5 separate regions of the Homo sapiens genome follow, and regions 1, 2, 3 and 4 are each linked to region 5. The links come from fine-mapping of genetic effects on gene expression. A gene starts in region 5. Each other region holds a variant in brackets. All regions are shown on one strand. Distances are from middle to middle.

Region 1 (6,196 bases), 50 kb after region 5:
GATGGGTATCTCATTCCCCACTATAGGCCCCTTAGTCTAAAGCATTGCCAAGCCTACGATGAAGTTGGGAGTTTCTGGGCAGATTAATTTATAAACCGAGGTTGTGGTTTGGAACTGAAGTGACCAGAGGGCATTTTATTATCTGAGATGATCAGAGAGTCCAAAGACCTTTCTATTATTTCATTTGAAGTTGGGGAGGGGAAAAGAACTGGCCTAAAAGAAGATTCAAATGGGCAGTTGAAGGTGAAGAATAAAGCTATTTTCTTTTTGCATCCTAGGAATCCAGCTTGCTCACGGGTATCATTCTATTAGTATCATTAAATACATGAATCATCTCAATCATCCACAGCTGGGTTTCAAACTTCAAGCCATGGCAATTCTATAACATCTGTCTGGTGGACATGCGCTCCTATTCTCTGCAAAGCTACCTTAAGCATCTCTACCTTCCTTAATTTCCGAACTTATACTGCCTCCTTACACTCAGATGATCTTGCTTCAGTCTTCACAGAGAAAGTCATATCCATCAGATGTGAGCAAACCCTCCATTTATTTTATATTGCCAAATGGAGCTTGGAACTAAGAGTATTAATTGTTAATCAACACATATGTTACAAATATGTAATGGATGGCTCCACTATTTGAAAATGGTATAGGCCCAGTGTGGTGGCTCAAGCCTGTAATCCCAGCACTTCAGGAGGCCAAGGTGGGAAGATCACATGAGTCCCGGAGTTTGAGACCTGCCTGGGCAGCATAGTGAAACACCATCCCTAAAAAATAAAAAATAAAAAAAAATTAGCCAGGCGTGGTGGCATGTGCCTACAGTCCCAGATACTTGGAGGCTGAGGTAGGAGGATCACTTGAGCTCTGGAGATTGAGGCTGCAGTGAGCTGTGATTGTGTCACTGCACTCCAGCCTGGGTGTCAGAGTGAGACTCTGTCTTGAAAAAAGAAAAGAAAATATATTCTCCTTGGCAGGTGCACTGTTGCCTCTATAATCTTATTTTCATTATTGGTTTGCTTATTTGTATTAAAACCTACGAGCGGATCTAAAGTCAAGTTTTAATTTATATGTGTGGTATTTTGTAAAATACATCCCAAAGATTGCCATTCATACAGTATTTCACAATATTTGAAATAGGGTATTTTACGCCTTTGCTATTACCTTCAGAGAGCTTTTGTAGTCTCAATTCTCTTATTCCATCTAATTACAACTTCATTTTAAAAGCAGCTGGGAGTATATATACCCTCAGCATTTAAGAATGTTACATTTAATGTATTGAATGAGTTTTTAATTCCAGTATAACTAACAAAAATAATTTAAAAACAGAATTGCTAATGGAAGCATGCTTCTCTATATAATTTACATTATCATAAAAGAACTCTAAGTTCATTATAGAAAATTTGAATATCACAGGGAAGTATAAAGAATAAAATAAAAATCAGTCATAATCACACTGTCACTTCCATACTCATTCTTAAGATTTCCCAGTCTTTTCTACTTTTCAAAGCTGATAAAATAGTGCACATACTCTGAAAAAATCCTGCTGTTTTACTCCCTGAAGATTATATAGCAGCCATCTTTTTTTCCTGTGTCGTGTAATACTCACTAACAATCTAGTTTTGATGACTGAAGTGTATTGTATCAGTTTATAATGAGTTATAATTTATTATATTATAATGCCTATTATTGTATACAGTATTGTAGTATATAATCTTACCCTAATATAATTTATGTAGCAATTCATAGCATGCTTATTTTTAGAAATAGAAAAATCTGATACACATTTGTCTTCTGGCATGTAATCAGGTTTGGTATTTTCATCCCACCATCAATAACCTTAAATTTTTTGCCAAATTATACTCACTTTGTAATCTGTAAACAATTACAGTCCCATTTTATTTTACTTAATTAATTAATTTATTTTTTGAGATGGAGTCTCGCTCTGTTGCCCAGGCTGGAGTGCAGTGGTGCGACCTTGGCTCACTGCAACCTCTGCCTCCCAGGTTCAAGTGATTCTCCTGCCTCAGCCTCCCAAGTAACTGGGATTACAGGCATCGGCCACAATGCCCAGCTAATTTTTGTATTTTTAGTAGAGACAGGGTTTCACTATGTTGGCCAGGCTGGTTTCGAACCTCTGACCGCAAGTGATCTGCCTTCCTTGGCCTCCCAAAGTGTTGGGATTACAGGGGTGAGCAACCGCACTGGACCTGCAGTCCCATTTTAAATTCAGCAAAAACAAAAAGGCCACCAAGCTCTTTAAATGTCTGAAATTGCAGTCTCCACTCATGGTCTCTGTTTTCCCTATTTCATTTATTGCTTAATTCCTTGTTATCCAGCTCTCCCCC[T/C]TCTTGAATTCTCCTTTTTATTCTCCCCTCTGTCTCTCTTCAATAGGAAATTTGCCTTTATTGGCTTTTTCTTTACTGCTAAATGCTCATAGAAAAATCAGATATTACACATAAAGCTCATGGGCCTTATATTTGCCTGCATATCAGGGGTGGAACCATTTGGCGGGAGACTCATATATACCAAGTTCATCACACTGAAGTATCAGAATACTGGGTTTTAAACTTACCCAATTAATAGTGGAGTTGTCATGTGGTCTGAAATGCTCTAAGTCTGTATGACTAACATTTTCTCTTACCGAAGATAGATATTCAAGGGAAGCCAAACCATAAACAGTAGTTTGCTTAATAAGAATGACACCAGAGCAAGAGAGTTTGGATTAGACATTTAGAATGTTCAGTGGCAACAGGCAACCCCACGTGTGCATCATAATAACTAAGGTTAGATGTGGTGTTAGGGTTGGGCTGAGGCAAGGAAACTGCGATCCTGAGAAATCCATCAAGGAGATGAGTGCCATTTTGAAGCTCCCCTTGTGAGACAGCTGGTTGGCCTTCTTAAATCTGTCTGTCTTAACTGTGCATGGTGCACCTTCCTATCAGAAACTACTGCATTGATCACTTGCATCTTTCTTCACTGTCTCTTCTTCCTCCTGGTCATCCATGACTCTTGCTTTTTTGGTCCTCCTCCTATGTCTGATGGTTCTTTCATTAACTTCTTTCTATGCTAACTCTTAGTTCTTACATCTCTGAAGCAGCATGTTTATACGAATTCTGCCCTGGGCCTTAAAGTAGTTATTAACATGGCTCACTGATGGCAGCACGCCTTTTTCCAGACTCATGGTTGGATGATATTTCCTGCCTCCTTGGTGGTTGAGTGGGGCTATGTGATGACTCCTGGCCTTTGATATATGAGCAAGATAATGTCTGTCATATCTGGGCTAGAATATCTAATTGCCAGCGTGAGATCCTCCTTTTTTTCTGCTGTAGAAACTAGCAATGTTCCAGGTGGGTGGTTTGCTCATCAGCTCAAATCCCAGGGCGAGATGATGCTGAGCAGAACTCATAGTCAGCTCTTGACATAAAGAATGGATGAGAAATAAAACTGTCATGTATTAAGTCACTGAGATTTTGGGGTTGTTTGTTACTGTAGCATAATCTAGCTGTGGCCTGACTGAAACAGCCTTTTTTTTTTTTTTTTTTAGAAAAAACTCTTTACCTTATCCCTTGATGGTTTTATAAAAGATTAAGACTTTAATTTTATCCTCTAATCAAATCTACCAGACTAAACTTGATTGATGCCCTAGCTCAGATCCCAGTTTTCTTTTCCTTTATTTTATTTTATTTTATTTTATTTTATTTTATTTTATTTTATTTTATTTTATTTTTTGAGGCAGACTCTTACTCTGTTGCCCAGGCTGGAGAGCAGTGGTGCAATCTTGGCTCACTGCAACCTTTGCCTCCCAGGTTCAAATGATTATCATGCCTCAGCCTCCCAAGTAGCTGGGATTACAGGCACCTGCCACCACACCAGGCTAATTTTTTGCATTTTTAGTAGAGACAAGGTTTTGCCATGTTGGCCAGGCTGGTCTTGAACTTCTGGCCTCAAGTGATCTTCCCGCCTCGACCTCCCAATGTGTTGGGATTACAGGTGTGAACCACCGCACCTGGCAGATCTGTTTTCTGGTTAACACGTGACAACTTCAGGGGTCATAAGAACCTTGATCTGAATGTTCTGCAAGATATCTCAAATTCACCATGCCCCAAAACAACTTATCATCTCCTTTCCCTCAATTGCTGCTGCTTCTCTATTGCCATTCAGTTAATAACACCACTTTCTCTAATTAACTCAGCATTTTAACCTTGAAAATGTGCTCCTCATGGGTGAGGTGGGGCCAGTCTTACCAGTGACAAAATTGAAAAAGCAGAAAGACCAAGCCAAAACACGAAGTCCAGGAACCAGAGCTGTATCCACTGGAGTCCTTAGGAATTGTATTTCTTAAATTCTGCCTTGTATAGAAAAATTAGCTTCTCATTTTCCTTTTCAGATCATGCAAATGGACTTCCATTGGTTTGCTGAAAGCAAATGTATTCATCTTCTCCATCTTCTCACCTAAAAAGATGAGATCATTCTTTTTAAAATGTGATCTCCTCCTCTTCGTCCTCCTCCTCCACTATAAAAAGAATACTTGCAACAACAGGATGACAGTGTGTGTCAAGCACACTGGCTTCTGCAGGCTCCATAAACTGTGGTGGACTTTCTTTGTACCACCTTCTTGTCTCCATTACATAGTTGTGGAGGAGCGGGCATCTAGCCTCTAAATGCAGCCAAGAAAGGGAAATCAAGACTGATGTTCTAATGGTGAGGTAATATCCAATCTATGGTCTCTGAACCCAGCAACTCCACCCCAGGTTCGTTATCTGTGTCTGCAGTTTTGTGGTGATTGCAGATCTGGAAAGCTGACACTCCAAATGTCACCAAGCCATTTATTTAATCATCAAACCAAGCTCATGAACCAATTGCTCCTTCCATCACCAGCAAAAAGTAAAAAAAGGAGAATGTGATGAAATCCGCCTTTGGCTACATTGCAGAAATCAAGAACATATCTGAGATTGGCTGCTACAGTTGCCAATTAGGTTATAATCAAAAGAGGAGAACAGGGAATTAAGGGTAAAGTACTATCCAAAGAATAGAAGGTCTAGGGGCACAATCCATGCTGGTCTTTTCCTTTGTTAAGGCTGCTTCTTAATATCTCTTTAGGATGAGAGCCAAGACCATTTCTTTGGTCACAGGGGCTGGATGGATATGCTATGCTTTAAGAGGCAAGCACTAGTATTTTATAGGAGTCTATGCATGAAGTCAAAGCCACAGAACCAAGTATTTTGAGGTGTGTGAGGGTGGGATTGAATCAGAGTAAATTGAGATCAAGCTGCCGTTGTTGCTATTGAGAAGATGATGCTATTCTTATTTCTAGTTATTTATGACTAGTTTTCTCTCTCCTGTCTACAGTTCTAAGCTTTAATGACAATGCAGTATTTCTGAGAATTGACATAAAGAAGGGCGTGGAGTTGGGTCAGATTTTTTGTTTATAATGTGATTTTTTGCTTAGTTTCTCCATTTAATTGTGGTACCTCAGCTGTGTCTGGTGTTCCCAAGTCTGGAATACCTATTCATCCACATCTCCAGGGAGGACATCTTTGGTGCTCTGCTGGAGTAGGGAGAGTTGGCTACCTGGCCACAAAGGGTTGATTAGGAGACCTCAGAATTTGCCTACTCCTTACAAAGATTTTTAATTGATTGTCTTGTTTTCAATTTGCCTTCAGAGGCAGCTGGCATCCTCAATTCCTGACACTTTCTGGGGATTCTGAGCTATAAATTGGTTTGCTTCTTCTGGTTGACTCCTCCTCCTGTAGCCTCATCCCTCTCTCCTCTTGGGTTGCCATGTCCAAAATTTTGTGGCTGTCTATCATCTGTGGTCATTTCCCTTTCTGTTTCCTTTGTTTTGGGGGATCCATGTTTTATTTTTATTTTTCCTGTCATTTTAGAGGGGCTTGGAAAAGGGAAAACAAACTTCTGTATTCAATCTTTCATATTTTCTGAAAGTCTATTCAGTCACTTTTTTCTGTCAATTTCTATTATGTTTTTCAGAACACTCCTGAATGTGTCTTGAACCTAGTAGGTAACACGATACAAATCAAAGCAATTATAATATCATACAGTGGCTTCCCTGACCCAAGGGAAAATGGCAGACATTAAAATTACCCTGCATAAATATTTCTGAAAACAGTAGACAATGCAGTATTTTTCCAAATTTCTTGTCCTTCATTCATGCAATATCTACCGAGCACCATGCTCA
Region 2 (6,196 bases), 100 kb before region 5:
TGGGCTTGACCCAGCAAGTAACAGGCCACTGAGTAGTCAGTGTGTGGATGTTCTAGATTTTCCTGTTTGGTTAATGGTGTATTGGCTGCTGCTTGATACACAGCCACCTACACAGTCCAATTGTCTCCTCCTCCCTGCACAGGCCTGACTTGACCTAGTTATTCCAGAGCATTGCTCAATCACCAAATAGCTTCCATAAGAGGTGAGAGAGAGAGAGAGAGAAGAAGGAGGAGAGGGGGAGGAAGAGGAGGAATGCTTGAGCAATCCAGGAGACCGAGCCAGGATCGGGCCTCTGAGAGGCCCATGTGGGTTTCACATTCTCAGGACAATATTTGCCATCCTCACTGGCAGAGGGAGAGTGGAGACTATGCACCGAGCACAGGTCTAGGCCTGAATGGGAATGAGTCAGTGGCCAAAGGGCAGGGTTGGGAGGGAGTGGGTGGCTGATGGTGGACACAGGTGGAGGAAGAACTGGGAGTGTGCCCCTCTGCTGGGATTTCCCTGCTCCTGAGGCTCCCTTCAGCCATCCAAACTCCTTGGGTTTCCTCTTGTACCCACAATGCAAGGGTTGGAAAAGGGGGCCCAGTTAAGTATTTTGGGTGAGAAGAAAACCATTTTAACTCCTTTCTTTTCCTGACTTAGTTTACAGTTAGCAGCAATAGCTTCCACCCATAAATACAATGTACACTGCTTGGTATTCGCACAGCTCTTTAAAGTTTTTAAGTTTATACTTTATTATCCAAATTAGAGCCAAATTGCTAAACAGGACACTAGGACATCAGATATGCACTGGGACTATTCTGGTCATACCATGATATATGACCACCATAGATACTTAGAAATCCAGGGCTTCATGATACTCTTACAAGATCCTGGGAGTGGACCTCACCATCTCCATTTTACAGTTGAGGAGACACATGTGTTTCCTCTTAGCTGCCAGGGGGATGGAAGAGGAAGGTGGTCCAGCAGAGACTGGGTGAAGTCAGCTGCTCTCTTGCGCAGCTTTTCAGAAACAGCTGGGACTGTGCTGTTAGAGGCAAGGTGCACAGTGGAGCTGGGAAGGGAGCCACCATATGTGAGTGCCGGGGATAAGGCAGGCCTTGCCTTCATAAAATGTTCAGTGCTCGTACATCCATTGCCTCATTTAATTCGTTTTTTGTTTTGTTTTGTTTTTGTTTGTTTGTTTTTTGCCCAGGCTGGAGTGCAGTGCACGATCTTGGCTCACTGCAACCTCTGCCTCCCAGGTTCAAGAGATTCTCCTGTCTCAGCCTCCCTAGTAGCTGTAACTACAGGCATGTGCCACCATGCCTGGCTAGTTTTTGCATCTTTAGTAGAAACGGGGTTTTGCCATGTTGGCCAGGCTGGTCTCAAACTCCTGACCTCAAGTGATCCACCTGCCTTGGCCTTCCAAAGTGCTGGGATGACAGGAATGAGCCACTGTGCCCAACCTAATTCTGACATTTAGCTCTGCAAGGAGATAATATTTTATAGATGAGGAAAACAAAATTCAGAGAAGTTGAGTCACTTTCTTAAGGCCATAGAGGTAATAAGTAAGGAGTTGAGATTTAAATCTGGCACTGTACCTCTTCTATCACACCATCCTGCCACATTGGCACAACCCTGTATGAGGGTCCTCAAGGAGGCCCATGTCTGAGTGGTGGTAGCTCTTCTCCAACCTTCTTCTCTACCCTCTTTAATAACCAACTATAACTCTACTCCTCAGGCACTTATCTAAATATTCTTTAAGTCTAGCCAGAGTTTTACCCAAGATGAAATATGTACATGGAAAGAACCAAGAAACAAACCAATTCTAAACCAATTTCTCCTCTCTGGCAGAGAGGCTGCCCTAACTGATACGCTCTGCAGAAAACTGAGTGAGAAGGAAAATAAGAGCCAGGCATGGTGGCTCATGCCTGTAATCCCAGCACTTTGGGAGGCCGAGGTGGGTGGATCAATTGAGCCCAGGACTTTGAGAACAGCTTGGGCTGGCAAAACCCCAGGGGTTGGAAGTGTGAGGGACTGAGGAAGGAGGATCGCTTGAGCCCCGGAGGTTGAGGCTGCAGTGAGCTGTGATTATCACTGCACTCCAGCCTGGATGACAGAGTGAGACCCTGTCTCAAAAAAATAATAACAGGAAGGAAGGAAGGAAGGAAGGGAGGGAGCAAAGGAGGGAGGAAAGGAGGGAGGGAGGGAACTCAGTTACAGAGGTTGTCTCTAGTTGGTTTACTGTGGCTCCACCAATGTAAAGGGCATAGCCCCCTGGCTACCGTCCTCACCCCTAGGAGACTATGGTTTCCCCCTTATCCTGTCCTGATCCCAGTTAACTCTAAGAAGTCTTCTGCCAGCCCCCGTTCTGCCTCTTCTCCCAGGTGACTAGGCAAGCTGCCCAGCAGCCATCACCCACCCCTGCTCACGAACTGCAACTTGCACATAGGGTGATGGGAGGTCGGAGTGTGTATTCTCCTCAAGCTACTTTCATAACATGGGTCTGCCTGGAGAGTTACCTCATCCCAGATTGCTTGT[C/G]CAGGTGGCTGCAGGATCTTGCCAAGTTTTCTCTAGAACACTGTGAGCTCTATTAGGCTCTTATTTGTCTGAAAATTTCCTCTCCTCTCCAGTGAGTCTATTTCCTTGCTGCTCAAAGTGTGGACAACAGTTCAGTTGCATTGGTACCACCTAGGAGCTTGTTAGCAATACACAAACACAGGTCTCACCCCACACCTACTGAATCAGACTCTGCATTTACCCAGATCATATATGCAGAGTGAAGGTTGAAAAGAATTGCTCTAGATGCCCATGAAAGGTGAATTCCAAAACCCAATCATCTCCTAAAATAATATAATGAAGGATCAAAGATGATGGTCAAGTGCTATTTAAAACACCATGGAAGGCCCAGCGCAGTGGCTCACGCCTGTAATCCCAACACTTTGGGAGGCCAAGGTGGGCGGATCATATGAGGCCAGGAGTTTGAGACCAGCCTGGCCCACATGGTGAAACTCCGTCTCTACTAAAAATACAAAAATTAGCCGGGTGTGGTGGCACGTGCTTGTAGTTCCAGCTACTTGGGAGGCTGAGGCACGAGAATCCCTTGAACCCAGGAGGCAGAGGTTGCAGTGAGCTGAGATCGCGCCACTGCACTCCAGCCTGGGTGATAGAGCGAGACTCTGTCTTAGAAAACAAAACAAAACAAAACAAAAACACCATGGGGCATTCCTGTACTCAGGCTATAAAAAGTTAATTCGGTGCCAGTTAGAGAGATAAGTAAAATAGTCCTAAGTCAAGAATATTATACTAAGTCTGTCTTGTAAATCAAGGCCAAATTATTGAAAGTGGCTACATGGAGCTCTATGTTGGGATGTGTTCAGGTTAGAATTAGGGGTAGAGTCAGAGGTTTCAGCAGGAAGAAGTTGTGATAGATTAGCATGTCTCGCCTGGTCCCAAGAGGGTGGGGTGGCTGCCAGTGTGCCCTTATTTGCCCTCCCTGTCCTAGGTGTTCTCTGCTTTCTTGGCACTCAGTTTCATTTCTATCTCTTAGCAGTTTCCCTACTCAGCCCTTGGCATTACCTGTAACTCCTGTGACTAAGAACTGGATGACTGTGGACCTGACCATTTGGGACAAGAACTAAACCCAACACTTGCTCACTGCCCTGTAGATAATGACCCCTTGTTTCTGCCTTCTTCCATTCCATAGTCACAGCAACAAGGAGGAAGACAGCACAAATATGGCCCTGAAATGAGCTCCCCCTGCTGTATTTGATCCACTTTCCCCATGCAAGGGCTGTAGGAACCATGGTTTTCTTAGCACAGGGTCTGGGATGTCTCACAAGTCCTGGAAACTCATCCAAGTCACAGGGGCATTACTGTAAACACAAATTTTCCTCAGAACACAGTGCTCAAGGTTTTAGGCACAGAGGCAGTCACTCTTAGCCTCAATTCATCCTGCTCAGCCCAGAGCTAAACTACAGCGAGCATAGTGATTGACTAGAGGGAAACCTCATGACCTAGGGTTTCATTAGCAAGGATGCTTGAGGTCAGGCCTAAAAGCAAGAAGAGCTCAGTGTGGGACCTAAGCGTAGAAATCTGCCCTCATCTCCTTCTTGGACAGAGTCAGCTGCTCCAGCTCTCAGATCTCTGGGTCAATAACTCTTTGCTTTGCTTTGACAACACACACTACTGCAGCTTCAAAAACAGAATCCAAGCACACAAGGACCTCTTCCCTGGGGCTATCCCAAGGTCCCTGACTTTCCTACGCTGCCTAAAAAATGGAAACCAATGAGTGCCTATTAAGTGCTTGCAATTTCATAAACTTTACCTCCCTCAAACTTTACAATTCAATAATGTAAATGTCATTATCGAAAGCTATAGACAGGTTAAGTAGCACATCTAAGCTCTCACAGCTAGTAAGTGGTAGAACTAAAATTCAAACCCAGTCCCACTGGGCTTCAAATGGCAATGTCTTTAACATTCACACTGTCTGTGATAAAACCCAGTGATCCCTCTGTTGCCAGATCCAATGGCCTTTTCTTAGTTCTTTTTTTTTTTTTTTTTTTTGAGACAGAGTCTCGCTCTGTTTCCTGGGCTGGAGTGCAGTGGTGCGATCTTGGCTCACTGCAACCTCCATCTCCTGGGTTCAAGTGATTCTCCTGTCTCAGCCTCCCGAGTAGCTGGGATTACAGGCGCACGCCACCATGCCCGGCTAATTTTTGTATTTTTAGTAGAGAAGGGGTATCACTATGTTGGCCAGGCTGGTCTCGAACTCTTGACCTCATGATCCATCCACCTCAGCCTCCCAAAGTGCTGGATTACAGGCATGAGCCACCATGCCCGGCTCACCTTTTCTTAGTTCTTATCACACTCGATGTTTTAGTGACATTCCACAAAGCCTACCTGTGTGCCCCTCTTCTCGAAACATTTTCTTCTCCTGGCTTTTATGAAATCTCACTTGTTGATGTTCCTCCTGCTTCACTGGCTGTTCCTTCTCAGTCTCTTTTTTGTTATTCTTTATTTTCTACTTAACCTCTCAACTTTAGAAGACCTAGGATGCAATCCTGAGCTCTTCTCTTCTGCATCTACAATCCACCTGGGTGAGCCCACCAATCTCCTGGTTTGAATACCATCCATGTATGGAGATTTTCAAACTTGCTATTCTTGCTTTGAGCTCTCTCTGCAAATCCGGGCTCATATAATCAACTCTTTGTTTGACATTTTTACTTGTAAAAAAATTAATAAGATTATTAATCCACTCCCCTCCCCCCAAGTTTGCTTCTACTCCAATTTTCTCCACCAAAGTAAACAGCACCTGGTTACCCTCAAGCCAAAAATCTAGAATTATCCTTGATTTCTCTGTTTTACTAGGCACCATGACCAATCCTTCAGCAAGTATTGTAACTTCTGCCTCCAAAAGATATCCCGACACCCACTTATCTACTTCTTCATTGCCAACACTCTAATTGAATCCCTGGTCATCACTGCCTGGATCACTGCAGTGTTCTTATAACTGCTGTTTCTGTTTCCAATATCTCTGCAATCCATTTGCCATATGGCAGCTAGAAGGATCTTTCTAAAAACATGAATCTGATTAAATCACTTTCTTACTTAAAGTCTTCCAATGACTTTCCACTCCACTTTGAATAAAATCCTAAACTTCTTACCCTCTTCCACGAAGCCTCCCATGATCCAACCTCATCTCATTCTGCTCTCACCCTTGGCCACCACCCTCCAGCCACACTTTAGCCTTTCTTCGTGCCTTATCCCTACCAAGTGAGTTTCTGCCTGAGAGTCCTCGAGCGTGCTGTTAATGCTTTAGAATATTCTTCTCCTGGTTTTCCTAGGTCAGTCTTTCTTGTCATCAATTAAGTGCTACCTTCTCAGAGAAGCCTTCCTTGGCCACGAATCTAAAATATCCATACGCCAGCAATTATCATAGCTCATATTTTAATTCTCTGCATAGCTGTTATTACTATCTGATCATTTCTTGTTTACATTTGGGGGAGTTATTGCCTAACTTCTTCATTAGCAATCAGGATTCACTGTCCTGTTTGCCATTGTATAGCTCATGCATAGAATGGTGTCTAGCACATAAGAAGCTCTCCACATACACCTAGTAAACAAATGGATGAATGAATGAAGGAGACAAAGCCACCAGTGTGCCTTTGGAGAGAAGAAAGCATGGCCAGATAGCCCCTTTAAAGGTATGGCA
Region 3 (6,196 bases), 37 kb before region 5:
AAGGAAGACTTCCGGTTATTACCATTAATTTTCAAACATTTGTGAACTACAAAAACTCGGATAAATAAGCTGTATGGCAATCTAGTACTAATATATCTAAACTCTTCAGTCTAAAATCCATTCACAATAATAAATGTTAATAATGCCAAATAAAATATAAAATACAGAACTTCTGGCTTTTTCAGGGTGCTGGTACTTGTCTGGTTATGCTATAGGAAACCAAAAATCGTACATACAGGAATTGTTTTTGAGGTTACTAATGAATAAAAGAGAATTTTTAGATGTATGTTGTAATTTCCTATTCAGGAAGACAATCATTCCAATTGAAATGACCACAGCACATGGGTTTTTTGTTCTTCCATATATAATACCAGCTTTACAGGTGAAGGCAACGAGACTTAGAGACTATGTCACCTAATAAGTGCTGAAAGGAACAGGACCCCAAATCCAAAGCAGAGCTGTGGTCATCTCTTTCCACTCCCATATGCTGAATCACAACAAACAAAGGGCCTGTCCTTGGGAGACTGTACACAAAGCACTGAGTGACCTTTGTCAACCAGAGGTGACTATCATTATCAGAGCTAGGAAATGCATGGAAGAATGGCCTTTTCAAGATCAACAGTTTAAATTACTTTATTAATATACAGAAGAACGAACGAAGGAGAACACTGCGTAATTCCTAAGCTGACCGCAGGTTCCAGGCTTTGCTCTGTAGTCAGACCTATAGCAATGTGTGGGGTATGGTCAGCACCCCAGTAAAGAGACTTCAATTCAAGCTTTGCTTTCTCCTCTAGATACAAGGTTTTAAACCTCTCACGGTTTCATTTCCTTGGCTGTATAATTACTAAAATCCTGCTGGCTTTGAAATTACATACACTTTGTAACATTTATGGAGAGAGTAAGAGACAAAGTGAGCAAACCATTCTGAATGGCATCAGAAAGTAACACTAAATACAAACTGGAAAGCATCTTTTCCTTAAAACAAATAAAACAGAATATGCCCTTCGGCAAAACTGCAACACTGATGTTTAATATCAGCAAGGATACCTTTTACATCCACTTGGGAAAGTTTCTTTTGGGCCTTTCTCAAACATTAGTGAAGAGAGAACTTAACGAATTATTCGACTGCTCTGGGAATGAACGTCATTTCTGAAGTATTTCAGGTTAAATTATTTTACACTAAAAATTCAGGGCCATTCCCTCCCCATCCAGAAGATTCCGCTTTACCTCCAGAACTTGTTGTTGTAGTTGTTGCTGTCGTAGTTGCTGCAGCTGCAGCCACTGCTGAAGACTGAGGAGCCCCAGTACTAGCTGCTTGAGGGGGGTCAACCACAGCCTGACTTTCTCTATCTCCAGGGATTCCCTGTAATAGAATTTCCAAGCTTTAAGATATCCCATCATGCAAAATTAAATATTATACAGAGTAAAAGATTTATAGTCTATTTAACATCTTGTTTGATTTTCAAAAGCATCAAACAGATGTCTGCTTCAATTAAAAGTAAAGGATTATTAAGCTGCATGGATTCAAATTAGATTAGAAATGACCTGGGTGCATTATAGAAAAACCCACATTGCTATAATAATGCAAAGCAGCACTGTCCAACAGAACTTACCATGATGATGGAAATATTCTCTGTGTTGTTCAATAAGACACCTACCAGGCACACGTAATTAGCATCAAATTTGAAAAATATTGATACATGTACCTTCTTAAAACTGAACACAACCAAAGGTTTTTGTGCTACCTATTAGTTCAGTTGACTTTTTAACTTCTTAGAAATCTTTATCAGCTGTTACTCAGTGATAAAAAGGATTGAGTTTGCAACTCTAGCTTAAGATAATCCAAAAAGAGGTTTTGATGCACACTTGACAGTTCTGAAATGACTCCTGGGGGAAAAAATATCTAATGGATACAGACCAGGTACACAGTGGCCAGGCAGGAGGATCTCCCCTACTGATCCATGGTACTGAGAAAGTGTCACTCAGAAAGTATCTCATAAATTTGAGGTACTTTTCAGTGAAGTGTTTCTTAAAGTGTCAAAGTATCTCATAAATGAGATACTTAAAGTATCTCATAAATGAGATACTTAAAGTATCTCAAAAAATGAGATAAAGTATCTCAAAAAATTTAATTTTTCAAAATTCATAAAATCGATATAAAAGAAATTGAAACCATTTAGTTTTTAGGTGATGCCTTTTGTAAGTTTATAGTACTTATCTTTTAAAGTTATTAAGAGCTTAAAACTGCATGCACTAAACTCTTTTGGGACACCTATTTTGATGCACATGATTGATAGACTTGTCATTTAAAATTTTTAAAAAGTCTTTATCAAGTTCTTATAGATTTTGAAGAGAATAAAGAACCAAGTATTACAATTGAATAAGATGATAAATGCTTCCATTCCCTAATAAACCAGAAGCCAAAAGCAACAACATATAAAGGATGAAGAGTAACACAGCAGGAAAATGGCTGCATGGATTAGATGTCACTCCAGGCATTAAAACCAATGTTTTTGAATGAGTTAACCAACGCAAACCCTTAACTCAGATGGGCAGTTATTTAAGTGCTAACAAACTACATACAAATTTAGGATCCAGGGCGTCCATCAAATTCTCTTTTATTAAACTAAAAAGTTCATCTTTATTGCTATAGATCGACCTCTATTCTCACACATTACATAGCCTCTTATATAAATGCTCAACATTTCTTCTTTCCATCCGTTCACCTTAACCTATCTCTTAACTAGTAACAGTTAAAAGCAACTTTTCCCCTTCAGTCTATGAAACAAAGAGCAAATATATAAAAAACATTTTAGTTATAAATTGTTTTTGATGAACTCATGTATCATCTATTTATTTGCATTTGATGCTCTACAGCAGTTTTAGCATTTGGTAACAATGATTCTGTATTTTTATACCTCAAAACTCCACATCTATTAGATCAAAATAACTGATACTGTTGAACTTATACAGAATTCTAAATCAGGTGTAAATGAAAGCCACTCCATAAAAGCTAATACTTTTATACAATCTGTTTAGGGTACACACTCCTCACCAAACAAATTCACAACAATTATTAATTCCACAATTCCAAACAAACTGGATAAACTGCCAGCATTTAAAGACACTACTCAAGAAGATAATGAAAAAGTGAATTTAAAAAGATAAAATAATATGCTAAGAAAAAGGTTTTGTGAACTTCACATGCAAAGGCATAGGCAAATAAATGGTGGAGGCAGAGTACAGTTATGAGGCTTATAACTGACTCTTCTGAAACTAGCTAGCTACCTGAAAGGAGTTTTTAACAGAAGTACAACCTAGACACAAAGGAATGGGTTAAACTGTGGATGTAATTCCCAAAAGGGTTAGAATCAGGCAACTTTAAGATGATATTTAGGGCAATTCAGACTTTGATAATACTCCAAAACACCAGACAATTATAGAAGTCTGAGATTTTAAAAAACTTAATTCAATTACTTTAGCCTGTGTCACATCTGTAAAACTAGCAGACTTTCATCTTAATACCAAGGGTTTCAGTTGATGTCCACAACAACCTATTTCTCAAAAACTCCCATTACCAGTAAAAAAAAGAATACTTTATTCAAAAAGTCCCTCAACTCCTACTGACTATAAAAACAAATTCAAATGCCAACGGAACCAGGTAGTAACATCATTCATTAAATGCATGATGTTACGTTGGTAACAGAGTGAATCAGAGGATAATGAATTAGATTCCACGATCTAAAATATTTTCCTTAATCCCTTGCAAAAATCTGGGATCAAAGTTGTCCAGTTAAACCAGAAATCTGTACTTTTATGTGAAATTTCCCAGTTTTTAAAAAGCTGGCAACTTATTACAGAAATATACACAGTATAAGCAAAAGAATTTGGCCCGGATTCTCAAGCTTGAAATTTTGGCCAGGCACGGTGGCTCACACCTGTAATCCCAGCACTTTGGGAGGCTGAGG[C/T]GGGCGGATCACGAGGTCAGGAGATCAAGACCATCCTGGCTAACATGGTGAAATCCCATCTTACTAAAAATACAAAAAAATTAGCCGAGCATGGTGGCAGGCGCCTGTGGTCCCAGCTACTTAGGAGGCTGAGGCAGGAGAAAGGCGTGAACCTGGGAGGTGGAGCTTGTGGTGAGCAGAGATCATGCCACTGCACTCCAGTCTGGGCGACAGAGCGAGACTCCGTCTCAAAAAAAAAAAAAAAAAAAAGAAAAAAGAAATTTTTGTTCTGAATAATTCACGCATAGTGGCACCTAAAAAGCTACTACAATGTTGGACCATTAGATTAAAAAAGGTTACATTTTATTAACACAAAATACAAACATACTAGAAAAAAAAAAGCATTATGTATATCATCTAGCATATATCAGTGACAAGTGAACTGGTCCTTTAAAATCTGTTTCTTTGAGATTTTAATCTTAAACAACAGAATGGAGTAAAGTAAAACATATTTCTCACCATTAAAAGATACTCCACTGCTCTGTCAGGGTTGTTGAAACTGGCTCTCAGGGCTGCAATTACTTGCTCTCGTTCATAGCCCATTGACATGATCTCAGTTACCATATTCTCGTAAGACTGACCCGTCACTAAAAAGGGAGGGTGGAGGGGAAAAAAAGGAACATTTAATAAATAAGCATTCTCTATACATTTATTGATTCATGTATACAACATTTCAGGAACTACTATGCTGGGAATACAAAGATGAGTAACAGTATAAATTACAACATATATGTAGTAGGTAATGGTCCCCCAAAGATGCCCTCTGGTTTGATCCCTGGAACCTATAAATAGGTTACAAGGCAAAGGGAAATTGCGGTTATAGATAAAATTAAGGTTGCTAATCAGCTGACTTTAAGACAGAGACCTCATTCTGGATTATCCAGGTGGGTCCAGTGTAATGACATGAATCCTTAATAGTAGTAGGAGGAGGCAGATGAGAGGGTCAGAGAAACAGGTGTGAGGAGGAGGAGACAAAACCAGGATGAGAGATGTTATGCTGTTGCCTTTGAAGATGCAGAAAGGGGCTACCAGCCAAGGTATGGTAGGACAGGATCAGGAAAAAAATTCTTCCCCGGAGTCTCCAAAAAGGAATGCCGGCTCCCTGATTTTAGTACAGTGAGCCCTGTGTCACACTTCTAACCTACAGTACTAGAAGACAGTTAATCTGTGTTGTTCTACACCAATAAGTTTGTGGTAACTTACTACAGTAGCAACAGGAAACTCATATAATATGTTTCAGAGTACAATAGAAAAATGAGGTATGAAGGTAAGGGAGAATTAGCAGGAGGTCAGGGAAGGCAACTGGTAAGAAGAGACACCAAATTCTGAAAACATGCTGGGGAAGGGATGGTATTTCAAACCATCAACTCCGATGGAACAAGTTCACAGTTTCCCTTTGATACCTTATATAACTGAAACGGGGGAAAGAGAGGTTAGGAGCTAGAAAGTTAAAATCTTGTACACTATACAAAGTTGGTAAAATGCCCAAAGCGCTAATATTCCAAGTCACTTCTTACAGACTCCTATGCTCCCTCCTCTCAATACAGACAACACTCTGAATAAATGAAACCTATTTTCCTCATAAACTTACCTCACTTAAAACTATCCTTTCTTCTGCTTGTGTTCTGGGGACCATTACCTTTATTGTTGCCTCACACTCAAACCAAACTGGATTTGGTTATCCTCCCTCTTCTCCACCAACATCTTTACCCCTCTGTGTAATTATCCTGGGTCAGTAGTTAACTATGTCCTATATTTCACTCTAAAACAAAAACACACCTCCCACCTTTGACTTCATCCTAATTCCTCTTTGAGGAACCATCTGCTGTCTTCTCATCACAGCCATAGCTATTGAACATGTGTCCACTTTCTCACATTCCACTCATTCCTCAACTAATTGCAATTCAGATTTCCCTCTCAAATGTGTCCCACCATTGTCTGTCTGCTCTCTTTAAACAAATGGCACCTCTATTTACCTAAGCACTTGGACAAAAACCCTGGTGATTTCAGTTCCTTTTCCTCTTCCTTCCACACCTCACTTACCAGCATACCTGGTAGGTCCTATCTCTAAATTACACCCCAAACCCATCTCTTCATTCTCTACTGTCATCACTGAAGACAAGCCCACAACAGTCTCTAGATGGGATTACACCCTGTTTCCAACTCTTGTCTCCATATCTATAATCTGT
Region 4 (6,196 bases), 22 kb before region 5:
TAAAAAGGAGCTTAAAGCAATTAAGAGAATAAGATGTATTGTGCTGACTTAAGACATATTAAGTTTGTAATATTTAAGTGCTTTAGTAAACCAATTTTTTAAATGCGTAAGTTCCCTCTCATATACAGACCTGATCAACAGCCCTTTGATGTAACAGCTTAACCTGACTCTAGGTGGTATCCACTAGGATAAGATGGTTGAATGCATTTCTAGTTGTACATGGGAAAGATGGATCAAGTTAGGCAATGGTGTCATAGAATGCTTAAAGCAGTGTTCTAGGCAAGTAACAGGGCAAATATTCTATTGCCTAAACCCATGTTGTCTTCTTAGGGAATCAATTATTTAGAAAGAGACCCCCAAGTAAGCAATGAACCAGGTGGCTCAGACTCCTCCAAACATGGTTGACTAAGTCAGACACAGAAACCACACTCAAAGGCAGAACACTAAAATGAAGGATCACAACTATATCTTTCTGATCATTGTCATATATATCTTAACCCCTTTCCATGTCTGTAAACCCTTCCAGTCACTGCATAGTTTTCCACTGTGTCTGATTCTGACTCCAAAGATCATATAACTACTGCCTCTGAGGTCCTGAGTTGCACTAAGTCACAAAATACAAACAGCTGTAGTGCCAGTGAAGGCTGGTCATAATATAACTCATGCTCTTAGATCAAGGAATTGTGCTGTATGATTTCCAACCAAGAGAACTCTGACTTAAGCATTTGCTTTGGTCATTTTACCTGATCGTCTGGGGAGAAAAACAAAAGTCTTGTCTTAAACTGCTCAATAATCCTAACTGCCTAAGCAGCCACTTAGTTGAGGTGTCTCTGCTGTCAACTTCCCACAAGAAATTATTTCTTGCTCCTCAAATATCTCAACACTCTTTTCCTTTTTTTTCCCCTAAAGATCCACACAGGCAGAAGCCTGAATTTCTCACAAGTTCACAAAGATACAGATACAACAGTGAAAAACTGAAATAGTCCATAGGTTCAGGTTACAAGAGCTAACAAATGTCAGAACCAAACACAATGCTATATAACTACGGGAAAGATTTACTAACATGGAAGGATGCTTATGATATATATGACAATGACCACAAAGAATACAGATCAAGTACAAATGATGATCAGGGTGGCAATGTCATGATGTAATCCTTATTCATTTTGGTTATTTGTATTTCCTAACGTTTCTACTCAAAAAAAAAAAAATGACTTTCACCTGCTTTCTCCTTTCCACTGCCCCCCACCCTGCCCAAATCAACAGAGTACAGAAATCTGATTATGAAAATTTGTACTTATATTCTCCTTAGTAAGCTATCAAAACAGACGCAGCATATGTTTTAGTCAAACATTTAAAAAAAGCTTAACGTAATAGATATAGTCGGTTTGATCAAAACAATAATCAAAATAAATGCATGAAGTTCCTGTTAAACACGGATTTTGAGATAGAATGTCCTAGAATCCAGTTCCTACCTGTCAGTTGCTGTTGGGCTAGTAGCCACTGGTGTCTCTGCTGGCTTTTCTGCAGGCTTCTCTTGTTTAGCTGCACTAGCAGGTGCAGGTTCAGAAGATGCTGTCGCTGATGCTGGAGTGATGGATGCAGGTGTGGAAGTGGGGGCCAAGGCAGGGACAGGGGTTGGAGCCTGAGCCACAGTTGTGGTGGTGGAGGAAGTAACTGCTGTAGTGCTGGCAGGAGCTGACTGCTGAGTTGTAGCTGGTGCTGGTGTGGACACTGCTTTGGGCTAAACACATTAAAAGACAAAATAATTACAATAAAATACTACATACTGCCTGATCTCTAATTAGACTGTACCGTTACAGGATGCCACAAACATAGCACTAATAACAACCTATAACTTGAAAATAATTTTGTAAAATGACACAATAAATGATCAATATTAACAATCTGACTCATGGTTACTCTTTCAAAGCTCATGACAGCGTATGTTAATCTTAACTATCAACCACAATTAATTTTACCCAACAATTTCCATCTTCATATCAAGTTAATATAAAATAAAAAATTTGAAATATATATAGATATATAGATATATATATATATATATATAGATATAAACCGTATCATTTTCCCAAAAAAACTTTATGTACCTAAGTTGTAACTTTAAGGTACCTAATACCACTTAAAAGCATTAATAAAATAATTTTCTTTAATTTTAAAGACAGGGTCTTGCTACCTTGCCCAGGCTGGTCTTGAACTCCGGGCCTGAAGCAATCCTCCCACCACGGGCTCCCAAAGCGCTAGGATTACAGGCATAAACTACTACATCCAGCCCAAAATAATGTTCTTGAAATGGCAGTATAAATGTTTATTTATAAACATGTCAAATATTCTGTTGTACTGTATTTTTAGAAGAGGGAGGAAAATCCCAAAATTGACTACAAATCAACAGATCCAAGTACAAAAAGGTTCACAATACTTTCAGACATATATGTAATTAAGCAGAAAAATAAAGGCCAAATTAAGTTACCTCCACACGCTCAGCACTTTCTGAACTGGAAATAGAGCCATAAAGCTTCCCACAGAGCAAAAAAACAATTAGTTGACCCTTGAACAACAAGGGTTTGAACTGCACTGGGTCCACTTACATGATAATTTTTTTCAATATAAGTTACACTGAGTGTGCCTGCCTCTCCTTCTACCTCCTCCATCTCTGCCACCTTGAGACCGCAATACCAACCCTTTCTCTTTCTCAGCCTATTCAGTGTGAAGACAAGGATGAAGACCTTTATGATGATCCACTTACACTTAATGAACACTAAAAATATTCTCTCTCGTGATTTTCTTTTGTTTCTTTTTGAGAGAGGTTCTCACTCTATCGCCCAGACTGGAGTGCAGTGGTATGATCACAGCTCACTGCAGCCTCAACCTCCCAAGGCTCCTGCCTCAGCCACTGCCCCCGCCCCCAACACCAGGTAGCTGGGACTACGGGCTCACACTACCA[C/T]TCCCTGCTAAATTTTTGTATTTTTTTTTTTTGTAGAGACAAGGTTTCGCCATGTTACCCAGACAGGTCTCCAACACCTGAGCTCAAGCGATCCGCCCACCTTGGCCTCCCAAGGCGATGGGATTACAGGCATCAGCCACCACACCTGGCCATGATTTTCTTAATAGTTTCTCTAGCTTACTTTAATACAGTATATCATACATGTAACATATAAAACATGTATTAATCCACTGTTTACGTTATCAGTAAGGCTTCTGGTCAAGAGTAGGCTATTAGTAGGTAAGTTTTGGGCAAGTCAAAAGGTATATGCAGATTTCTGACTGTAGGGGAGAGGCCAGCACTCCTAAGCTCAGTGGTGTTCAAGGGTCAACTGTACATGTGTAAAAATCATACATGATTTTTAGTCTTCTCCTAAGGCCTCTCAATGCTCGCTACCTGTTTAGTTCATAACTTTCCCAAGGACAAAAGGTAGCTGTTTTAGTGGAAGACAAGGCTTAAATTCAACATAATTTGCCACAGGCATAAACAAACTCTAAAACCAATGAGCTGCCTTGTCTTTTTGATTTGAACTAATAAAGAAGACACTAGGAAAAAGGTTAGTGAAAGGTGATAGGTTTTTAAAAAATACTAGTAGCATTACTCCCTTCTTTTCCTATTTAGCTTAACTTTCTTAACAGCCAATATAATATTCTGCAGATTATTACTGTTCTAAAACTAAAATGAGCTGAAATCCTGAGATCATTCTGGATCTTCAGTTATTCTGGATAAACTGGAGCTTCACAAAGGTGAAAATTTAGAGTCTTAAGCACCAAAACTTTATAATAACCAATCTAGATAAAAATGTATTTTTAAAAGTGGTATACTCATTTAATATTTTCCTTAATTGTTATCAAAATAATATTGCAATGTAACTTCCCTTCAAGGTTCCTACTGCCAAGAACAGCTACTTATACTTTATTCTAAACAGTACCAAGCCCTTCTCTGCTTTTTAGTTTTTATTCTTGCTTTTGATCTTAATAGCTTTTTCCTTTCCCTTCTTTGTATTAATAAGGTCATTTCTCAGTGCTTCCATAATGCCTTACTGTAGCAGCATTCCCTCCCTTTTCATAGTTGTCCTCTATTAACTTCAAATAAAACAATCATAAATATCATTAGAATCCTATGTAATATTAGGAATAAAAGACTTTAAGGAAAAACAAAAGGACTGTATGCAATATAATGATAGGCTTCAAGTATCTATTCCTCAAACACACGCACCTATTGAGACTTTTTCTGCTTAATTCTTGTGTTCTAAACAGTCAGGATCACTGTAATATTAAAAGAAACTAAGACCAGTAACAAAACATATTTAAATGTGTGGCTATCACATTTCCCATTATGTACTATGTATGCTAAAACTAGATAGGAAAATAGGATAGTATTCAGTCTTAAAAGTTCAGCAAATTCTGGCACAAGCTATAACATAGACAGATGAACCTCAATGACATTATGCTAAGTGAAATAAGCCAGTCACAAAAAGACAAATACCATAGGATTCCACTTATATGATGGTGATAGCTGCAAAACAATGTAACTATAATGTTATTGAACTGTACACTTAAAATGATTAAACTGGAAGTTTGTTATATTTTACCACAGTTGAATAAAAAAACCTAGATGATACAAGGTTTCCTCACGATTCTGCTTGTTTTTAAACTTAACATATAATGACTTAAGTTCTTAAGTATAGCAAAATCAACATGGTTCTTAATGAATTAAAAAATGTTCAACACTTGTAAACTATTTAGCTGCTTGCTCCCAGTACAAAAGCATGTGGTAATTAGAATTTATTTCTTCGACTCTATTTTCTATTACTATTAACTATTTTGTGACTTTGAGAAAAAACCCACATTTAATCCACTTTTGGCCTTTGATGAAGTGGTTTCAATTAGTGATTTAAACTCATTTTCAGTGCTACAAGTAACACTGTTCTTTCTCAGATTATGACAATCCAATCCTAAAAATGAATGTCATGAGTACCACTTCTCCATTTGTCTCTTAATTCTACACTGCATTATATATCTTTAAATAAACAAGTATATAAATAGTCTCTTAAAAAAATCCATGTTCATTCTCTGCTTTAAAAAAAATTTAATTTTATAAATTGTTCCAAATACATTCCAGCCTACTAAATCACAAAAAAGTATCTGTTTAAAACTTCCAGGCTGGGCGCGGTGGCTCACGCCTGTAATCCCAGCACTTTGGGAGGCCGAGGCGGGCGGATCACGAGGTCAGGAAATCGAGACCATCCTGGCTAACACGGTGAAACCCTGTCTCTACTAAAAATACAAAAAAATTAGCCGGGCGTGGTGGCATGCGCCTGTAGTCCCAGCTACTAGGGAGGCTGAGGCAGGAGAATGGCATGAACCCGGGAGACAGAGCTTGTAGTGAGCCAAGACAGCGTCACTGCGCTCCAGCCTGGGCAACAGAGCGAGACTCCGTCTCAAAAAAAAAAAAACAAAACAAAAACAAAAAAAACTTCCTCATAAAAATCATTCCATCATTTCTTTAGTTATCTTTTCCCTTTTTTTAGTTTCTAAAAACATATTCTTTCACTAAGAACTATCACTGTAATAATAAGCTTTCATGCCTTTTCTGTCTTGAGGAATCTGTTAGGACTAGTACGTAATTTAGCAGGTCTATTTAAGGCAAGCTTACAAAAACTACAGAATAAACATTTATTCCACTTATAAAGACATTTTAAAAGAATTATATAATGATTTCACTACTGTAGCAAAAATAATTTTAACATGACATTTTATTTTTCAATTGTTTTAATTTACATAAAATTTTATTAAAACTATATTATAGTTTAATGTGTAATTAATGTAAAACATTAATAACTTTATGTTTCACTTAAGGTAAATTCTTAAAAACCTTTCATAGTAGTTAAGTGTACACCACTATGGATGTGTATAAACTGTGTCCATTGTGTGGACTTGTGATCATCATTTTTAAAAAGACCTACATGCATAAAGATATACAGAATGAGGTTGAAACTTACTTTGGTCACCATAACCACCACAAAGTTTTTCTCATCAATTTTATATTCTTTGAGAGCAGTATCATCATTGAGGATTTTGCCTAATACATTAAGAGAAAAAAAAATCATTTAAGGCATAATCTTTCTCTTACACTTCAGTTAAAACAACTTTCTACTCGAAATATGAATATTTCAGAAATATTAAAATA
Region 5 (6,196 bases):
CAAGTAAATGGTACAAAATGCCTAATAAGTCTAAGAAAGTTTTGTTAAAACTAGGGCAAATAAAAACACCTTAAAACAAATTATCTTGCTCTTTCCATTTTGTATATCCCCCTACTCTATAGCCAATGAGCTTTGACTAAGTCAATAAGGCTCCCAGAAGCCCCAGACCACGTTCTACAGGTCCCTGTACTCCTCCAGTCCTGCCAGCAAAGCTCACTAAACATTTACTTGTTCAACAAATGAATCATTCCCATGATTCCACTTATCTCACAGTCCTTTCTTCCATTTTTGCTCATGCTCATCTCAAGCTCACAAGAGTTGCTATACTGGCTACGTAAGTTACTTAATTTCCTTGGTTCCTTCTAGGTAAAAATTAAACAAGGACAAATCTGTGACCAGACCAAAAACAGGTCTCAATAAGATCCTATCTTATTTTAGATCTATTTCTAATATCCTTGGTTACCTCGTTCTCACAACAACTTAGAAACAGGACACTTAGCGTTGCCCTAGAAAACATAATTTTCATTGTTTATTTTCTTACTGGAATTCTAAGGTGTCGTATCAAAAACACATACTAATTAAAACCCACTACAAACATAGAATTGAAACAGTTGTCATGAAAAATATTTCCTAAAGTCATTAAAATAAAAACTGACAAGTCATTAAATGCAAACGTTCCATATATCCCAGAGGAAATGCTTTAATTTCTTGCCCCGGACTAACAGTATTAGTTTTTTTATACTAACAGCAACAAAATTATATTTATATAAATAGCAGCGAAAGCTGTAGAAACCGCTCCCTAACAATGGGCTTTTCAAAAATATACTTCCAGACGTATAACATATTACTTTTCCTTGGAAATAAACTGGAAAACAGCAAAAATAGTTAAGAATTCACACAAACACAGGTACAGCATTGACTCTCAGTTAACAGTATGCGTAAAGTGCCTAAAACGCTAAACAAATCTTACAGAACGTAAATACTTCAGTGGAGCTGTTGACAGAGTCACTGCATAACTTCAATACACCCACACATATTTACCAAAAAGCCACAATATTTCTTTAGCTTTCAATAATTCTGAAATTAACTGAGTATTATAAGCCGATTAAGTTACTGGGGCACCAACATTTGTTACCACAAAGAACCAAAGTCAAATAGGCATTTTACGTAGTTTGTCTGAAATCATCAAACAAACTCCATTTTAACTTTCACCCTTCAACTTATTAATGCACATTAAGCAGTAAAGAAATATTCAAGAGAAATTAGATTCTATTAGTACTGTCAGTCCACAGGGTATTGTCAATTACTTCTGAGGACACTGAAAAGTTTCTCATGTATAACTGAGATCTCCTGTACTTTTAAGAAGTTAATCACACAGCATACACCCACATATAAATATTCTGAAATCAAATAATTTTGTACCAAAATCCCAAAAAGGCTGTTTCTTAAAAAATTAAAGATGTACAAAACTTAAGATTAAATGAGATAAGTAAAACGTAACACTGTATCTCCACTCAAAGGAATCCATTGTTTAAATAATCGATTCCATTTACTGACCACCAAGTAAATACATACCATCTAATCTTCACATCTCTGCAAGGCAGGTATTATCCCTATTATACAGAGAATGAAACTAACCGTAATTTGCCCAAGGTCATAGCAAATAAGTTACAAAACCACAAATGGAACTCAGGTCTACTTAACACCAAAGCCCCTGATCTCCACCCAAAATAGAATCAACTACTTTTAAAAATAGAGTTGGGCAGAAAGCTGCTGGTTTAAACTTAGTATTATGACAATCTTGGCGGTGTATTTCCGAACATAAGCAGTAAATTTACACTCACAGCGTTTTTAGATTCTTGGCATAAAGTTGTACTGACCTCAACAGTGTCTCTTTATGCAGTCACAAATACAGAAAAATGTATAATGTGGACTTCTGAAATGTTTAAGGCTTTAACTGCAGAAAGGATTCAAAGTTGTTGTTTTTTGTTTTTTTTTTCTTTTTTCCCCCTTGAACTGCTACTGTTTGGGGCATCGGGGGAGGGTGGCTGCAGCGTTCCAACTCCTACAATTCCAAGATTTCTAACACAGAAAACCCGTTAAATCTGAAGTTTAGTTTGAGCCTGGATGGCTGTGAAGAGCTCTAACAGCTAAAACCATCACCAAAGAGGCCTCAAAGTGCAATCTACGCAAGGGTGTGGGTTTGGTGGCGGGAGGAAGGCAGCAGAACGATTCATTTGCAAATAAAAGGGTAAACAATTCTGAGGGGAAAGGGGCAAATTCATTTTCACCACCACTCACCTCTCGGCGGCAAACGGAACCTGATACTTTTTTTTTTCTTAAGGCTCATCTTCTCGGGTTACCAACTCTGGGAACTAAGCGGCTAACCAGGTCCACACAGGGGTAGTGGCGACGCCTACGTCTCCCTCCCCCACCTGTGCACCCATACCAGAAAGCCAGGCTCTACGGCTGAGACGGCCTGGACCTTCCCATCCCCCTCCGGCCCCGCTAGCACGAGCTCCTAGGCCCAGGCCCGCGGGCGTGCGCTCCACGCCATCTGCCACCAGGCCTTCGGCGTCCGGCCACTGCTTCCCCATTCTCCTGCCACAAAGCCCACGGCCAAGACAGGAGGATCGGCTCCGCTGTACGCCGCCAGGGCCGGCACCAGGACCCAGGGCCCTCATCGCGCCCTCCGGGGCTTCCCCCGCTGGAGCGCGCCGCCCGGCCCCACGAGCTCCTGGCGCTCCCCGCGGCCCGCACGCGGCTGCCCCTGCCCCCGGCCCGCGCGCATACCGTCTCCTCGGGGTCAATGTCTATCTTGAAGGTCTGCTGCTGGAGGGTCTTCAGGGTGACCTGCATGGTGCCGCCGCGCAGCTCGGCTGCCGGGCCTGCGCCGGGTGCTGGCCGCTGGGCGGGGTCTGTGGCCTGGCGGGGCCCCGGGGTCGCCCGCGCTCCTCGCGCTCTGGGGAGGAAGGCGGTGGGGGTGGGGGCTTGTCACATTCGCCCAGCGGAGCGGCCTCTCCCCCAGCCCGTGCCCCGGACCGCGCCGCTGCCTCCGCGACTGCGGCCTTCCCCGCGAACTCGGGCCGCCGTGCTTCCTCACGCGCCGAGCGCCAGCCACGGAGTCTGCAGAAGGCGCGAGGGGGTCGGCGAGACAAGCAGGGAATCCGCTAGCTCACCACAGGATGGTGGCCGCCATCATCGTGACTCGCCGAGACGTGCCCCCTCCCCCACGCGAAAAACCTGGGGGGATGGGGCCGGGCGGGCGAAGCGCGCAGGCGTGGGGTGCGGCGACGCTTTGCGCCGGCGCGGCCGAGGACTCCGCCCCAGAATTGGGGGCGGGGCGGAAGGCGGTCCTGGAATGTCGGCGGCCTGGACCCGGATTACGCAGGCGCGTTCCGTGGGCGGCAAGGGCTCCTGGGGCTTCCTCCTAGCGACTATTGCTGGGGCGTTCTCTCCGGCTGCCGCGGCTCCGCCTCTGTGCAGGCTCCGCCCGGCTGCCGAAGTTACGCAATGTGTAGCCCGGGAAGCGCTTCGTGGAGACCCGGCAGAGTGGATGCGGAGCCCTGGAGCGGGGGAGTAATCGGGGCGGAGTTTAAGTGAAAGGATGGCGGTAACCACAGTCTGGGGGCCAGCACCCGCGGGGCGCTTGCTGCGGGGCTCAGCCCTGGGGGTGTCGACTGATTCTTTAATCCCGACAGCACAGACTCCTGAGCTGGACTGCCCGAGTTCAAATATTGTTTTTTCTCACTAGCCTAAACAGATGGACCGATTTAAAATGAAGGTCAAGTTCTGTCACACCTCGGGGTAGAACTGTCCAGTGTTTCCCCATCTAGCCCCGAGTTAAAGTCAGAGTTATTAGAACGGATGCATTAGCCCCTCGCCTTTCTCCGAGTCGCCTTACTCTCCCCACTGGTGGATTCTAGGTTGCCCCCGGCTCCCTTAACATCCTTGCTCAGATATTGCCTTCTTGGTGAGGTCTGTTCTGGCTGCCTTACTTAAAATCCCAACTTCCTATCTCTGTTATCCTGCTCTGTTTTCTTGTATAGCGGGTATCCCTTTATAATTACCCTGTAATGTACGTATCTCTTGTTTATCATCTTTCTCCTTTTCCTGTGAACCCCAGACTGAAGCTGCACAGAGGCAAAGATTTTGCTGTGTTCACCCATGAACATGCCTGGCACATTGCAGGTGCACGGTAAATATTTGTGGAATGGGTGAATGTGCTTCTGGATCCTCAGCAGTAGAATGAGAATAATAATGTCACTCATTGATTATTGGAGGGGGAAGTTGAATATTGTATGTAAAATCATGATAAACAGTCTGTAAGCAGTTAGCTATTAGTAGAAAGTCCGTTTACAGATAGAAAACTGAAGTACAGAGATGTTGAGTAATGCACCTGGAATAACCCAGCCAGTAGTAAATGGCAAATCCACAATGTGACCTCAGACAGAATGACTCCAGAGTCTGTGTCCCAGGGTGTGCCACTATTCCCCTGTTTTTTGTTTTAAAGATTATTCTTATTTTTTTAAAGCGTCTGACTGTCATCCACGCTGGAGCGCTGTAGCACAAACACGGCTCACTGCAGCGTCAACCTCCTGAGCTCAAGAGATCCTTCCACCTCAGCCTCTTGAGTAGCTGGGACCACAGACACACACCACTGCTTCCCAGCTGATATTTTATTTTTTTGTACAGATATGTTCTCCCTATGTTGCCAGGGCTGGTCTTGAACTCCTGGGCTCAAGTAATCCTCCTGCTTCGGAGTCCCAAAGTGCTGGGATTATATGTGAGCCATCGCTCCCAGCTATTCTCCTCTGTTTTATACTGTGCCTGTGGCACATTTGATTTAGTTCAAGTATAAAACACAGTTCTAGTCAGGCCACTAGCTCTATGACCAATTACAAATTACTTCTCTGGGACAGCATCCTCACTAATACAATGTCACTGCTTGGTTTTCAGTGGCTTCAAGGAGCTTGGGTTTAATGTTTTCAAGAAACTTTCCTTGACCAGCTTCTCCCTCCACTAACCTGATATTTCCCCTTTCACAACACATAACTCCCTTCATAGTAATTAAATATGCAATCTTCTGCCCTCTGTCTTCCTGTATCTACTCGTAGTCACCAGGTGGTTTCATCTTGGCCCTTGTTTTGAAATACCTCCAGCCTGGACCTTTCCCCTTAGCTATAGAGTTAGCCAATTGCCTAAGCAATATCTTCACCTGAATATGTAACAAGCCTCTGAAACTTAATGTGGCCAAAGAGAACAATTGATTTCTCTCTGGACCTCCTTCCCCCCTGCAAACTGCCCCTCTCCCAGTTTTCCCCCATCTTAGTTTATGGCCTCACAGTCTACCCAGGTGCTCAGACCAAAAATCTGGTCTTCATCCCTGATAACTCTCTTCCCTCACTCACCCACTCCCAACCACCACATGCAATTCATTATCAAGCCCTGTCAACCTTATTCTCCAAAGTATATCCCCAAGTCAGCCTTTTTTCACCGTTTCTACTTCTACAGCCCTAAGCTAATCCATCATTATCCTTCACCTGCGTCCCACCTGGTCTCTCCGCTTCCACCCTTTACCCCCAACAGCCTCCCCAGCAGCCAGAGTGGCCTTTTAAACCCATAAATCAGAGCATGTTGTATCTATGCTTAGTATCTCATTACATTTTAGAATAAAAGTCAAACTCTTTACGTGGCCTTGGAGAGCCCACATGATCTGACTCCTGCCAGTTTCTCTGACCTCATCTCTTTCCTTCTCTCACCCACTCATTCACTGTCATCCATTTCCCTTTCAACCCTCAAACAGGTTAAGCTGGTTCTAGCCTCAGGGCCTTTGCACTTGAGGTTCCTTCAGCTTGAAACTCTATCTTCCCAGATCTTTGAACAACTAACTCCTTTTCATCTTCAGGTTCCAATTCCAATTTTACTTTTTTAGAGAGGACTTCTCCAACCAATTTAATAATATATATTAAACATGTGTTAAGCCTTTTTTCTTTTTCTTTTTTTGAGATGGAGTATCGCTCTGCTGTCGCCCAGGCTGGAGTGCAGTGGCGCAATCTCGGCTCACTGCAACCTCTGCCTCCCAGGTTCAAGCGATTCTCCAGCCTCAGCCTCCCGAGTAGCTGGGATTACAGGTGCCCGCCACCATGCCTGGCTAATTTTGTATTTTTAGTAGAGATGGGGTTTCACCATATTG

What was found. PIP is the estimated chance that this variant, and not a neighbour inherited with it, causes the effect.
Region 1: its variant is the best candidate, but not a certain one, in a credible set for the expression of RAD23B in whole blood (TOPMed, PIP 0.58).
Region 2: its variant is the best candidate, but not a certain one, in a credible set for the expression of RAD23B in cerebellar hemisphere (GTEx, PIP 0.58).
Region 3: its variant is the best candidate, but not a certain one, in a credible set for the expression of RAD23B in whole blood (INTERVAL, PIP 0.90).
Region 4: its variant is the best candidate, but not a certain one, in a credible set for the expression of RAD23B in whole blood (TOPMed, PIP 0.87).

The regions. Positions count from the first base shown.
Region 1 is chr9:107,229,891-107,236,086 of GRCh38, reverse strand. It overlaps LOC107987110 (a long non-coding RNA gene), which reads right to left. Exons shown (of 3, transcript XR_001746873.2): 3 at 3,948-4,452. Among named protein-coding and RNA genes, the nearest start is that of RAD23B, 50 kb to the left of the region's middle. The variant T/C (reference allele first, on the strand shown) is at 2,346.
Region 2 is chr9:107,383,899-107,390,094 of GRCh38, reverse strand. No RefSeq gene overlaps it. Among named protein-coding and RNA genes, the nearest start is that of LINC01509, 80 kb to the left of the region's middle. The variant C/G (reference allele first, on the strand shown) is at 2,524.
Region 3 is chr9:107,317,150-107,323,345 of GRCh38, reverse strand. RAD23B (RAD23 nucleotide excision repair protein B) reads right to left here. Exons shown (of 10, transcript NM_002874.5): 6 at 4,467-4,594; 7 at 1,228-1,363. Among named protein-coding and RNA genes, the nearest start is that of RAD23B, 37 kb to the right of the region's middle. The variant C/T (reference allele first, on the strand shown) is at 3,969.
Region 4 is chr9:107,301,927-107,308,122 of GRCh38, reverse strand. It overlaps RAD23B (RAD23 nucleotide excision repair protein B), which reads right to left. Exons shown (of 10, transcript NM_002874.5): 3 at 6,009-6,088; 4 at 1,476-1,744. Among named protein-coding and RNA genes, the nearest start is that of RAD23B, 22 kb to the right of the region's middle. The variant C/T (reference allele first, on the strand shown) is at 2,966.
Region 5 is chr9:107,280,293-107,286,488 of GRCh38, reverse strand. It overlaps RAD23B (RAD23 nucleotide excision repair protein B), which reads right to left and starts at 3,210. Exons shown (of 10, transcript NM_002874.5): 1 at 2,794-3,210. The coding sequence starts at 2,859. RefSeq lists a silencer at 2,672-3,231 and an enhancer at 3,722-3,881.